4 separate regions of the Homo sapiens genome follow, and all the other regions are reported to be linked to region 1. Evidence: microRNA targets listed by miRTarBase, many of them from high-throughput screens and not tested one by one. Region 1 holds a microRNA gene; each other region holds the end of a gene's coding sequence.
What was found. Region 1 holds the annotated microRNA hsa-miR-32-3p (CAAUUUAGUGUGUGUGAUAUUU, at 1,568-1,589, opposite strand). A microRNA usually pairs through its seed, bases 2 to 8, with sites in the 3' UTR of a target mRNA and lowers its output. Matches are read on the target gene's strand: a 7mer-m8 pairs with bases 2 to 8, a 7mer-A1 pairs with bases 2 to 7 and ends in A, and an 8mer does both.

Region 1 (3,143 bases):
TATTTATGGGGTACATAATAATGTTTCAATACATATAATGTATAGTAATCAGATAGGGGTAATTGGCATATCCATCATCTTGATCATTTATCATTTTGGTTTTTTTTTTTTTTTTTGAGATAGAGTCTCACTGTCGCCCAGGCTGCAGTACAGTGGCATGACCACAGCTCACTGCAACCTCCACCACCTGGGTTCAAGAGATTCTCCCACCTGAGCCTCCCGAGTAGCTAGGACTACAGGTGCATGCCACCAAGCCCAGCTAATTTTTGTATTTTTAGTGGAGATGGGGTTTCTCCATGTTGGCCAGGCTGGTCTTGAACTCCTGACCTCAGGTGATCTGCCCGCCTTGGCCTCCCAAAGTGCTGGGATTTGAGGCGTGAGCCACCGTACCTGGCCTCATTTCTTTTGTTGGGAGCATTCTGTATCTTCCTTCTAGCTACTTGAAATGATATAATTTATTGTTGAACTACAGTCATTCTACAGTGCTGTAGAACATTAGAACTTATGCCTTCTAAGTAATTTTTGTATCCTTTAACAAATCTCTCTCTACCCACCCCTTCCCAGCCCCAACCTCCCTTGAGAGGTCACATCTTCCCTTTCTTGATTAATCTGCCCTGGAAACCCAGCTCCACAGGGTGTCATATAGCAACCTGGCTGACATTAGATTTCCAGCATGAGGGGAACGGCCGAGCTGCTGAAGGGCACAGGGGATGAGCTGCTTACGTGGAATTCTTCCATTCTCACCCTCCAAAACAGTGGTGAAACACAGAAACATACAATGACAGCATCACAATAGATCATCTGGAGGCTATGGTAGTAGTAAATATTAATTCAATATTTTCATACAGTAATACATGGTTTTGTGTCCTTGACAATGCCTAGTGATTGTGGATGCTTACTCTAATGCTAACTAAAAAAATAACAAGGGGTTGTTTCAATTACATAGGCAAATAGTAAACGTGTATTTCAAAACTAGTTCCATTATTAGCCCACTAAAATGAATTTAGCAGTTTTCGAAGCATCACAATGAGAAAGTAAAAGACACATTTTTAAGGTAATTTACCTTGGAAACTTAAGTTTATGAGATGAATCTTTCATCAGGTAGGTTAAGCATACCTTTACTGTCTTGATTATTATTTAAGAACTCCAGTTAATTTAATTTCCCCAAATATGCATAAGAGATTTCTGCTTCTCTATTCCAGTGTTGGGAGAGATTTCTTCAAATAAATGAAAATACATTTTCTTACAGCTTTACATTCTTCCTTATACATTTAAATATTGTTTATACTCTTAAATCAATGAGAATTTGTAATAAATATTTCATTTGCTCAAAGTAAAAAATGGAAACACTGATTTACTAAATGATCATTGCTGACTTTTTTTAATCCAAATACTTTTAATTCTCCAAAATTGGAAGGTACCGATGGGAAGCATGTTCACTTTCCAAATGAGAATCGCATGGCATACACACTGTCTTATCTAATTCATCAGGACACCCACCCACTGGCACTGAAAAGCTGTAATCCCAGCAAGCAAGAGCCATACCCGTGTGCATGCACTCATGTGAAAATATCACACACACTAAATTGCATTGAGGCCGTGACAACATGCAACTTAGTAATGTGCAATATCTCCACCAGAGCAAGCAGAATGGGAGCATCAGGGAAGAAGGGTGTGATGTATACATTCAGGAGACAACATGCTGCTGAAGAGAGGAAAATGGTCTGGGGATAAAGGATGCATGCCACTGACTCAAAACTTCATGAAATGAAAACCCAATTGCAAATGTATTCAACTGAGAAGAATACTTATTCAGAATCAAAATAATGAGTAAGGTTCAAAACTTCAATGAGATAGTGATCATAAAGAAACCACATACTTCAGAAGGCAAAGCTTCACGAACAGACACTATCACTGTCTGGTCATGCAATTAACCCCCAATTTCAATTCCATTTTTGACTTATTCACAGATCATATAAATGAATGTAATGATTTCCACTTAGCTGCAACATAGATGATGATTAATGACTGATGCTTATAAAAGTTGGTATCACTGATATTTGTAGGCTAAACTGCACTTTGAGGACATTACAATATTTTCATAGTCATTCATAAATTATAAATAACCACTTATTTTTCCCTCAAAATCTTTTTCCATGAAGAAACATATTGCCTCTTCAACACAAACCTTCAGGATGAAAAATCCAACAGGAGCTCTTAGAAAGAGAACTCACTACCATCTTCTCCACAGGAGAAAGCTCTTCAGAGGAATCTCTGTAAAATCTGTACATTTTAAGTCTTGAATTTGAGCCAGTAAAGAAACAGCCCTAGGAACTTAAACTGCAAAAAAAACACCTTGAATTATAGCCTTAAAATTACATAACTTGATATAGCTTTGGTTAGAAAAATGTCTCAGGCCATAACCCATTCTTTAGTCTGTACCATATTTATCAGACTCATAAAAATCTATCAATTCTGAGAACCATTAGATTATAGTTCTGGTACCAAAGGTTGTTAAAATTTTTTCTGTATTTAAAATAAGGTGATAATAAAACAAATGGTTTTTAAATGCCAGTATACTATGGAACCAAGACATAAGCTACTGTTATAATACATAATTAGTGTATGCACTCCCAAGAAGGGAAGTCGAATCTAATTTGTAAAAGACTGATTTCCTCATATCGCTGTAGATGACAGCACTCTTTGTAATCTCAAATTCTCTCCTGAGCCAAAGACCTGAATTTCTAAATGCCACCCTCTTATGTCCACAAATATAAGTCATGATCTTCCCTAACCAGCTCCTCTTGAAAGAAGGCATCATGGTGTAACAGAGTATGTGCTTTCAATCAGCTGAACCTAGGTGTGACTAACAGCTTTACTTACCACTGACTGGCAAACACAACAGCTAGGAATTAAGTTTAAAACAAAAAAGGTGGCATATTTGGTATGAAAAAAGGTGACAGACATTTAGAGGATGGTCTGCTGTAAGAAAGCAGAACAAGAGAAAATTCAAAAGCTGTGATGTGAAAATAGAAACATTTTTCTAAGAATAAGAGTCAGTAACAATGAAGATTACTTGAGGAAAATGGAAGCATCATCTTTCTTGAAGTTCTTTATGAACAAGGTAGATATTTTTCTGCAAA
Region 2 (3,137 bases), not on the chromosome of region 1:
ATATACTAGTATATAACTCCCCTATAAATTCACAATGACAAAATCCTTGGGTTCTCACAGTTCTGATTATAAGTCCTATAATTACCTGTTTTAGTTACTTTAATAGGTTTATTAAACCTATTAATAATTCTTTATATTCTTTAAAAATGTATACTTTAAAAAATCTTTATGCATATATAAATTATTAAGGCTAAATTTAATGACATGTCTAGTCATTATAGACAAGGCATTTTACATATATACACACATACACACACGTGTGTTTTCTGTGTGCTACTATCAAGTCTAAATTTTTATGCTTTTGTCTCATTGCCCTGTTCATTTTTTGCTATGAAATTATCAGAAAAATAAGGATTGACAAGAATGGTTCCATTTACTACTGATTGGCAATGGCTGTCCCTCTCTAACAGGCCAGAGGGTCTGTTTAATATATTTAATGTCAAATATTTGAACCCTGAACCATCTTTCTGTTTATGCAGATATGGTTTACAGTTCTAAATCTTTTAAAAAACAATTTTCAGGCTGGGCACGGTGGCTCACGCCTGTAATCCCAGCACTTTGGGAGGCTGAGGCGGATGGATCACGAGGTCAGGAGTTCAAGACCAGCCTGGCCAACACAGTGAAACCCTGTCTCTACTAAAAATACAAAAATTAGCTGCGTGTGGTGGCACGTGCCTGTAGTACCAGCTACTTGGGAGGCTGAGGTAGGAGAATCGTTTGAACCCAGGAGGCAGAGGTTACAGTGAGTTGAGACCATGTCATTGCACTCCAGCCTGGACGATAGAGACTCCATTTCAAAAAATAAATTAATTAATAAATTTCAATTTCTACTGAATTTTATTACAATGACTTCATATACATAGTAAATACTGGTTATAAGTAATCCTTCCCAAGAAGGACCTGCAATAATGCTGTTCAAGTTGCCACTGAGCTTACTCTCCTCGCCAAAAGGATACCGTGGAAGTCACTGTCTTCGCAGATTTCCAATTCTCAAACATCAAAATCTCTCTAGTCACTTATTTGGGATTTTCAGAGACTTACATTTCTTATAGATTATGGTAGAAAAGGCTTATGTTGTAGCCAGGCGTGGTGGGTCACCCTGTAATCCCAGCACTTTGGGAGGCCGAGGCAGGCGGATCATGAAGTCAGGAGTTCGAGACCAGTCTGACCAACGTGGTGAAACCCCGTCTCTACTAAAAATACAAAAATTAGCTGGGCGTGATGGCACATGCCTGTAATCCCAGCTACTCAGAAGGCTGAGGCAGGAGAAGCACTTGAACCCAGGAGGCAGAGGTTGCAGTGAGCCGAGATCGCTCCACTGCATTCCAGCCTGGGCAACAGAGCGAGACTCTGTCTCAAAAAAAAAAAAAAAAAAGAAAAAAAAAAAGACTCTGGTACTCTCAAATTTTCCTCACCTATTTCCCTTCTCAATGTCCCTTTCTCTTGTATGAATTCTAATTCCTTGATATTAAATAAGGTGTAATAAGCTATGGCTAAAGTACCCCTAAAATCATGACAACTACAAGATTTCCCTCCAATACGAATTTGCTTGTTTTGCATTTAAGCATTGAGAGACAGCTAAAGGCCTTCTACATATACTGCATTCACATGTCCATGATTTATTAATAGCCTTCTCACAATTATAAAGCCGCAAGGTTTCTTTTTAGTAGAAATTCTCCAGTCTGAATGACCAAAAAAACCTCATATATACTCTTGGAATGAATAAGTCCAGTCCCAGGTATAAATTCAACAGAAATACATACACGCAAACACACACATGATATAAACAAGAATATTTACAGCAGTATTTTTATTATTACACAAAAGTATAAAAAATACAAATATCCATCAATAGGATAAACAGCAATATATTCTTAAAATGGAATAGTATGCAAAATGAAAATACACTACTGCCACATGCAATAATGTACAGATCTTAAAAAATTGAGTGAAATAAGCAAGACACAAAATAATTCATGATGTCTGATAAAATATATATTTATAAAATTGAAAACATGCAAAAACTACGTTTTGATGTTATAGGCTACGGAAGTGGTAACTCTTAGGTAAGTAACAACTAACTGCTTTTTATTACAGAGTGCAATGAGAAATATAGTTCATAAATATTTTCTCTTATGGAGATTAATACTTATAATCATTGTGTATCTTGTCTCTGCATGTATTATATAAGTATTTTTAAAAAATAAACTATTTGAGTCAGTAGGAAGAGCAGTTGACTTTAAAATTTAGCTTCATAGCTGATAGAGTTCAATAATAATGATCATACTTATTTTATATGCTAGTAAACAGTAGACAGTTATTCCGTATGGTACTTTAATAATTATTAGACTTGTGATTTAAAATTACATTAACATGTTTCAGCATGCTTTTCTTTTTAAAACTAAATGTTTACAACAGCTTGTAAAGAATTCATATAAGAAACCACATCATTTATTGCATTTCAATGTTTTCTCCCTTGTGAGTTCTTTGATGGACAATGAGGTTTCTCTTATAACTGAAAGACTTACCACACTCATTACAAACATAGGGTTTCTCACCTGTGTGAGTTCTCTGATGTACAATAAGATTTGTCTTCTGGCGGAAGCACTTTCCACATTCACTACATTTATATGGTTTCTCTCCCGTATGAGTTCTTTGATGATGAATGAGATATGACTTCCTGCTAAAGGCTTTCCCACACTGAGGACATTCATAGGATTTCTGGCCGGTATGTATTTTCTGATGTACAGTGAGGGTTGCTTTCTGGCGAAAGGACTTCCCACATTCATTACAAACATAGGGTTTCTCCCCTGTATGAATTCTCTGATGTAGATTGAGATTTGTCTTTTGACTGAATGATTTACCACATTCATTACATTCATATGGTTTCTCTCCTGTGTGAGTTCGGTGATGATCAATGAGGTATGACTTCATTCTAAAGGCCTTCCCACAGTGAGGACATTCATAAGATTTCTCCCCTGTATGTGTTCTCTGATGTGCTACAAGGGTTGTCTTCTGGCGGAAGGACTTTCCACATTCACTACAAATATAGGGTTTCTCCTCATTATGAGTTTTCTCATGAAGAGCAAGGGTTGTCTTCTGGGAGAAGGATTTCCCACATTCATTACAAATATAGG
Region 3 (3,143 bases), not on the chromosome of region 1:
CAGCTACTCAGGAGGCTGAGGCAGGAGAATGGCGTGAACTCGGGAGGCAGCTTGCAGTGAGCCGAGATCGCGCTACTGCACTCCAGCCTGGGCAACAGAGCAAGACTCCGTCTCAAAAAAACAAAAAACAAAGGTACAGCAGATTAAGAGAAATAACACATAATACTACATGGTGACTTGATGGTAGATTATATTGGTAGGTTGACAATCAGTATGGACAAAAACAATCAACAAGCATTAGGATACTATCTCTAGTCCCAGTTTTATAGTCACCGTCTATTTCACAACTTTTCTGGAACTTGGCTTTCTCATCTATAAAATGGCAGTGAGGCCGGGCGCAGTGGATCATGCCTGTAATCCCAGCACTTTGGAAGGCCAAGGCGGGTGGATGAACTGAGGTCAGGAGTTTGAGACCAGCCTGGCTAACATGGTGAAGCCCTGTCTCTACTAAAAATACAAAAAAATTAGCCGGGCATGGTGGCGGGCACCTTTAGTCCCAGCTACTGGGGAGGCTGAGGCAGGAGAATGGCGTGAACCCGGGAGGTGGAGCTTGCCGTGAGCCAAGATTGCGCCACTGCACTCCAGCCTGGGCGACAGAGCAAGACTCCGTCTGAAAAAAAAACAAAAACAAAAACAAAAACTGTAGTGGTTGGGCATGGGGTCTAACACCTGAAACCCCAACACTTTGGGAGGCCAAGACAAGGGACTGAGGCCAGAAGTTCGAGACCAAACTGGTCAACATGGTGAGACCCCACCTCTAATTTAAAAATAATAAAAATTTGGCCGGGCACAGTGGCTCAAGCCTGTAATCTCAGCACTTTGGGAGGCCAAGGCAGGCAGATCACCTGAGGTCGGGAGGTGGAGACCAGCCTGACCAACATAGAGAAACCCCTTCTCTACTAAAAATACAGAATTAGCCAGGTATGATGGTAGATGCTTGTAATCCCAGCTTTTCCGGAGGCTGAGGGAGGAGAATCAGTTGAACCCGGGAGGCGGAGGTTGCAGTGAGCTGAGATCATGTCATTGGTCTCCAGTTGGGGCAACAAGAGCGAAACTCCATCTCAAAAATAAACATTTTTAAAAAATTAAAAAGGGGCTGGGCATAGTGGCTCACGCCTGTAAACCCAGCACATTGGGAGGCTAAGGCAGATAGATCACTTAAGATCAGGGGTTTGAGCCCGGCCTGGACAATATGGCGAAACACTCTCTATAAAAAATACAAGAATTAGCTGTGGTGGCATGCACCTGCGGTTCTAGCTACTCACGAGGCTGAGCAGGGAGGATCTCTTAAGACCTGGAGGTGGAGGTTGCAGTGAGCCAAGATCACACCATTGCACCACTCCAGACTAGGCAACAGAGGCATAACCTCTTTCAAAAAGACCTAAGACGGGAGGCTGAGGCAGGAGAATGGCGTGAACCCGGGAGGCGGAGCTTGCAGTGAGCCAAGATTGTGCCACTGCACTACAGCCTGGGAGACGGAATGATGCTCCATCTCAAAAAACCACCACCAAAAGAAACCCTAAGAAACAAAAATTAAAATAATAAAGACTGTAGTGACCTGTATATTTAAGGTTCTGAGGATGGATATATATAGATATTTTCTGTCCCTCAATATTCTTGAATAGGCCAGGCGTGGTGGCTCATGCCGTAATCCCTGCACTTTGGGAGGCTGAGGCGGGTGGATCACCTAAGGTCAGGAGTTCGAGACCAGCCTGGCATACGTGATAAAACCCTGTCTCGACTAAAAATAGAAAAAAAATTAGCTGGGCGTGGTGGCATGCACCTATGACCCCCCAGCTACTCAGGAGGCTGAGGTTGCAGTGAGCTGAAATTGCACCACTACACTCCAGCCTGGGCAACAAGAGGAAAACTCCGTCTCAAAAAAAAAATCCTTGAATAAGGAACGAAAACTTTATTTTAGGTTAGGGAGTATTTACTTATGATAAGTGCAGGCTAGAATGGTTCAGTGTTTTATCAGCAACAAAGGCAAAATCAGAACTTTTTCCTTGCCACATGTGCTACCCTATACCCTATGCTCCGTGCCTCACTTAATATACAGAAAATACCTGGAAATCCACGATACTATGGCCCAATTTTTCTGCTAGTATACTTGCATATTAACATGGGACCTAGAGAAACTTTTGGAACAAGGTGATATTTATAAAACTGTTATTCTTTGTTTGGCATCAGTATCAGTCTGTCAGAAACACCAAGTAGCTTTATTTCCTTCTTGAAATGTTACTTCTAAGCAGGCCTATTTATGTTTTTTCTAAGCCTCAATTTTCTATTTAATATTTCTCAGAATAAAGAAAACAGCTCATTTTAAACAAGAAGTTTATTTAAACAACAAGACGCTTGACTTGAAGGGAAAACTATCTAGGATTCTTTTTTGTTTTAGAGTAATTTATCCCTACTTAAAGACAGATTGCCCTACATGTAACAGCTACGTACAAAAAAGTTATAAAATTGTCCTTGGTTTTACAATGATAAATGAAAAACATTAAAATTCTCCAATTGAACAAGGTATGCAAGGATTTTTATGTTGTTGTTTTTTTTTTTTGTTAAAACAGTGAGAGCAAAATAACTTACTGGAATATAAAGATAAGAGCTGAATGAGCATGCCACTAATGGAGAAAGGGGGTATTTTCACAGAATCAGTATTTTTCCCCATCCCGTCTCCACTTGATGTCAATCAAAACATACCATTGGCTGTTTAGTTAAAAAAAAAAAAAATGCAATATGCTTGTGCACATATACCAGTTACTTTATGTACAATAAAGGAATGGGGAAGGGGGAAATGAAAGAATAGAGAAAACTATACGGTAGTAGTCAGGATGTGGTGGAACCAAATTGCAGTTTTCTAATTGAGAATGTAATCTTGGTCTTTAAAGAACAGAGTTCTGGAGTAAAGAAGCAGGTTCCCTTTTCAGTAGACACCTCCCGTCTGCTGTTGGAACACATCAATTGTATCTTCATCCTCCATTTCCAACTAGCATAAAAGAAAAAACAAATGTAAAAGCACTGATTAAGTTCTGAAAATTAATGATTTTTGGGTTTAAGTATGCTGAAAACATGTACATGTTCCACTAAGTTCCAAGTTTCATTATTTTAGATGTCTCATAGCTTAATGTATCAACACACTT
Region 4 (3,143 bases), not on the chromosome of region 1:
TGCAGATCTGCCCCTCCCCTCCGTCCCTCCCCCGTCCCGTGACCTCTGATGTGCGCTTGTCTGCTGACTCTGGGGCTGGGGGCTGTGTTCTTCCCTAGGACTGCGGGCTGCAGCTGAGCGGGGAGGAGGGACGCCGTTGCTATCCCCTGGCGGGCCACCTACTGTGTCGTCGTTGCCACCTGCGGCGCCTCCAACCTGGGCCTCTTCCCTCACCCACTGTGCACGTCACTGAGCTCTGAGCAGGGGAAAACCCGTCCCTGGGCCGGGGTGGGTGTGGGTGTGGAGGGAGGGCCCGCGTGGGTGGCCCTGGTCAGCGTCAGGGGAGCTCCCTCCAATCAGTTTCCCACCGAGCTGCTGTCTGCAGGGGCCGGACCCCCGCGTGGAAGCTTCTATTTATTCACCGTCTGTGCCTGCTCAAGTCACTTCCCTGCGGGCCCTGCCTCCCACCCACCCCATCACCAGCTTTCCACTTGGAGGCCCCCTGTGCCCTGCAGCCTCAGGGTAGGCCGTGGGTCACCAGGCTGGAGAGGGCCCCTGCCTTGGCCAGGGGTGCGAGGTGACCCGGCTGCATTGCTGGGTGGGAGCTGCTGTCTGTTGTTCAGGGGCCTGGCCCCCGCCCTCCCCCCCGACCCCGACCTCGCAAAGCGCACTCCCGGGCAGGGTGTGGTCTGGAAGGCGGGGCTGGCGGGGACATGGGTGTTCCTGCATCTCCTAGCGCAGTTCCTGCTGGTGGGTGGAAGGGTGCCTGGTTTAGGCGGGGTCCCAGGAGGGGGTGAGGGGTGACACCCTTGGGGAGGGGGCCTGCAAAGGGCACTGCCTGTGGCCACGTGGTGTCTGTGGGAATTGGTCCTGGGGACTTTGATGGGTGTTTGCGGCCCCAGTTGCCGCCCTGCTCCCTCTTCCAGGGCTCCTGGCTTGGGCCCCCCGACCCCCCTGCTCAGCTCGGGAAAATCCCCGTGCGGCTCCAGCCCCGGGTCACGCTCAGGAGCGATGAGAGGGGCGCCCTGGCCACGCTTCAGGAAAGCCTGTGTCTGCGCGCGGGGCAAGGGGCTCCACGACAAAAGGACAAGATTTGACTTAAATTAAGTTTTTCCCTTGAGGATATTTTCATTTTCTTTAAAAGAATATAATTTTCTTCTAAGATCTTGGACCAGCCTTGTTATTTTTAAAGCAAATGCCGGCAAACTCACAAGTGTCTAGTTTGTCTGTTACGGAGCTGGTTTTCAGGTGGTAAGAACCTTGTGGTTTCAGGACTTTTGTCCTGAAATTCCTCTAAAACTTCGCCACGCGTGTCCACCTTTCAGACTTTAGGGTAGTGTGGGGTTCCGTGTGTGTCCGGGTGTTAAGGGCGGTCGCCCCATGAAATGCAGTGTGGAGGTCCCTCCGTGCTCCCCGGGACACACTGACGGGAATGTGGGGTCTGGACATGGGAGGCCCTGGTCCTGATGCGGAATCCCCAGGGGTTCAGGGGACATCTGGACTGAAGTCACTCGCCCCTGGGAGAGCCTGGACCCACCTCTTGGCTGCTGCTCTCCCCTTCCTCCCCCACCGTCAGGTGTGAGTTCTGTGAATCACTCGCGGGGCTGGGCTAGGCTCCGGGAACCAGCAGGGCTGTCCAGGCCGAGCCCAAGGGAACAAACACCAGGAGGCGCCCGCAGGGAAGTGGCGGCTTCGGAGTCCAGCAGGGCCGAGGCATGGCGCGGGCGCCACCTGGTGGGCTGAGCCGGCAAGTACAGGGGTGGTCAGGGAGCCTTAGCCAGGGACTTACACAGCGTGGAGAGCGCTGCATCTTAGAGTGGGGCCTTCAGCAGGACCAGGGGCCACTTCTTGGAGGAGGTGATCCCACTGGGGCCAGAGAGTAAAGTCCAGGCGTGGAGGCTCCGGTGCTGGCTCTCTCCTGCTAGCTGAGCTGCTTTTTCTTTTCTTTTCTTTTTTTTTTTTTGAGACGGAGTGTCATTGTGTCACCCAGGCTGGAGTGCAGTGGCACAATCTTGGCTCACTGCAGCCTCCGCCTCCCGGGTTCAAGCAATTCTCCTGCTTTAGTCTCCCGAGTAGCTGGGACTACAGGCGCACGCCACCACGCCCGGCTAATTTTGTATTTTTAGTAGAGATGGGGTTTCACCATGTTGGTCAGGCTGGTCTCCAACTGCTGACCTCAGGGGCGATCCACCCACCTCAGCCTCCCAAAGTGCTGGGATTACAGGTGTGTACCACTGTGCCCGGCTTTTTTTTTTTTTTTTTTTGAGACAGGGTCTCGTTCTGTCGCCCAGGCTGGAGTGCGTTGGCACAATCTGGGCCTACTGCAACCTCTGCCTCCAGGGTTCAAGTAATTCTCATGCCTCAGCCTCCCCAGTAGCTGAGACTACAGGTGTGCCCCATGACGCCCAGCTATTTTTTTTTTTTTTTTTTTTAAAGACAGAGTCTAGCTCTGTCGCCCAGGCTGGAGTGCAGTGGCGTGATCTGGGCTGACTGCAACCTCTGCCTCCCACGTTCAAGCATTCTGCCTCAGCCTTCCAAGTGCTGGGATTACAAGTGTGCGCCACCAGGCCTGGCTAATTTTTGTATTTTTAGTAGAGTCGGGGTTTCACCATGTTGGCCAGACTGGTCTGGAACTCCTGGCCTCAAGCGATCCATCCGCCTTGACCTTCCAAAGTTCTGGGATTACAGGCGTGAGCCACTGTGCCTGGCCTTACTTTTTGTATTTTTAGTTGAGAGGGGGTTTCAGCATGTTGGCCAGGTTGGTGTCAAACTCCTGACCTCAAGCGAGCCCACCTTGGCCTCCCAGAGTGTTGGGATTACAGGCTTGAGCCACCGTGCCTGGCCTGGGCTCCTTTGCCTTCTAACTGGTCAGTTGCAAAGCTGTCCTCTGAACTGTCCTCTCTGCTTCCTCCCTCAAACCTGCTTTGAGCCGGGTTTCTCCTTGTTGCCAACCCGGTCCTTCTCCTCCCCTTCCTTTGCATGTGCCATGGTGGGCCCTGTGCTTATATCCATGGGGTTGCTTCACTGAACCCTGCTCCATCCCGGTCACCATGCACGCTCCTGCCAGCTGGCCTGAGTCATCACAGCTTGGAGTCCCCCCAACCCCACCCAAGTAACACACTTTGTCAAAGGTCGCAGTCAAGGGACTGCATAGGCCCTTGGGG

Region 2: the mRNA of ZNF567 is a reported target of hsa-miR-32-3p. Seed matches in the 3' UTR shown: 7mer-m8 at 2,244-2,250.
Region 3: the mRNA of SUMO2 is a reported target of hsa-miR-32-3p. Seed matches in the 3' UTR shown: 7mer-A1 at 2,401-2,407 and 7mer-A1 at 759-765.
Region 4: the mRNA of WTIP is a reported target of hsa-miR-32-3p. Seed matches in the 3' UTR shown: 7mer-A1 at 1,079-1,085.

The regions. Positions count from the first base shown.
Region 1 is chr9:109,044,664-109,047,806 of GRCh38, forward strand. MIR32 (microRNA 32) reads right to left here and starts at 1,635; the gene lies at 1,566-1,635. The region is part of intron 14 of TMEM245 (transmembrane protein 245); the gene reads right to left.
Region 2 is chr19:36,719,983-36,723,119 of GRCh38, reverse strand. ZNF567 (zinc finger protein 567) reads right to left here. Exons shown (of 6, transcript NM_001322917.1): 6 at 1,784-3,137. The coding sequence ends at 2,452. Among named protein-coding and RNA genes, the nearest start is that of ZNF567, 34 kb to the right of the region's middle.
Region 3 is chr17:75,165,413-75,168,555 of GRCh38, forward strand. SUMO2 (small ubiquitin like modifier 2) reads right to left here. Exons shown (of 4, transcript NM_006937.4): 4 at 174-2,989. The coding sequence ends at 2,927. Among named protein-coding and RNA genes, the nearest start is that of JPT1, 12 kb to the left of the region's middle.
Region 4 is chr19:34,500,031-34,503,173 of GRCh38, forward strand. WTIP (WT1 interacting protein) reads left to right here. Exons shown (of 8, transcript NM_001080436.2): 8 at 99-3,143. The coding sequence ends at 239. Among named protein-coding and RNA genes, the nearest start is that of WTIP, 20 kb to the left of the region's middle. RefSeq lists a silencer at 1,780-1,839.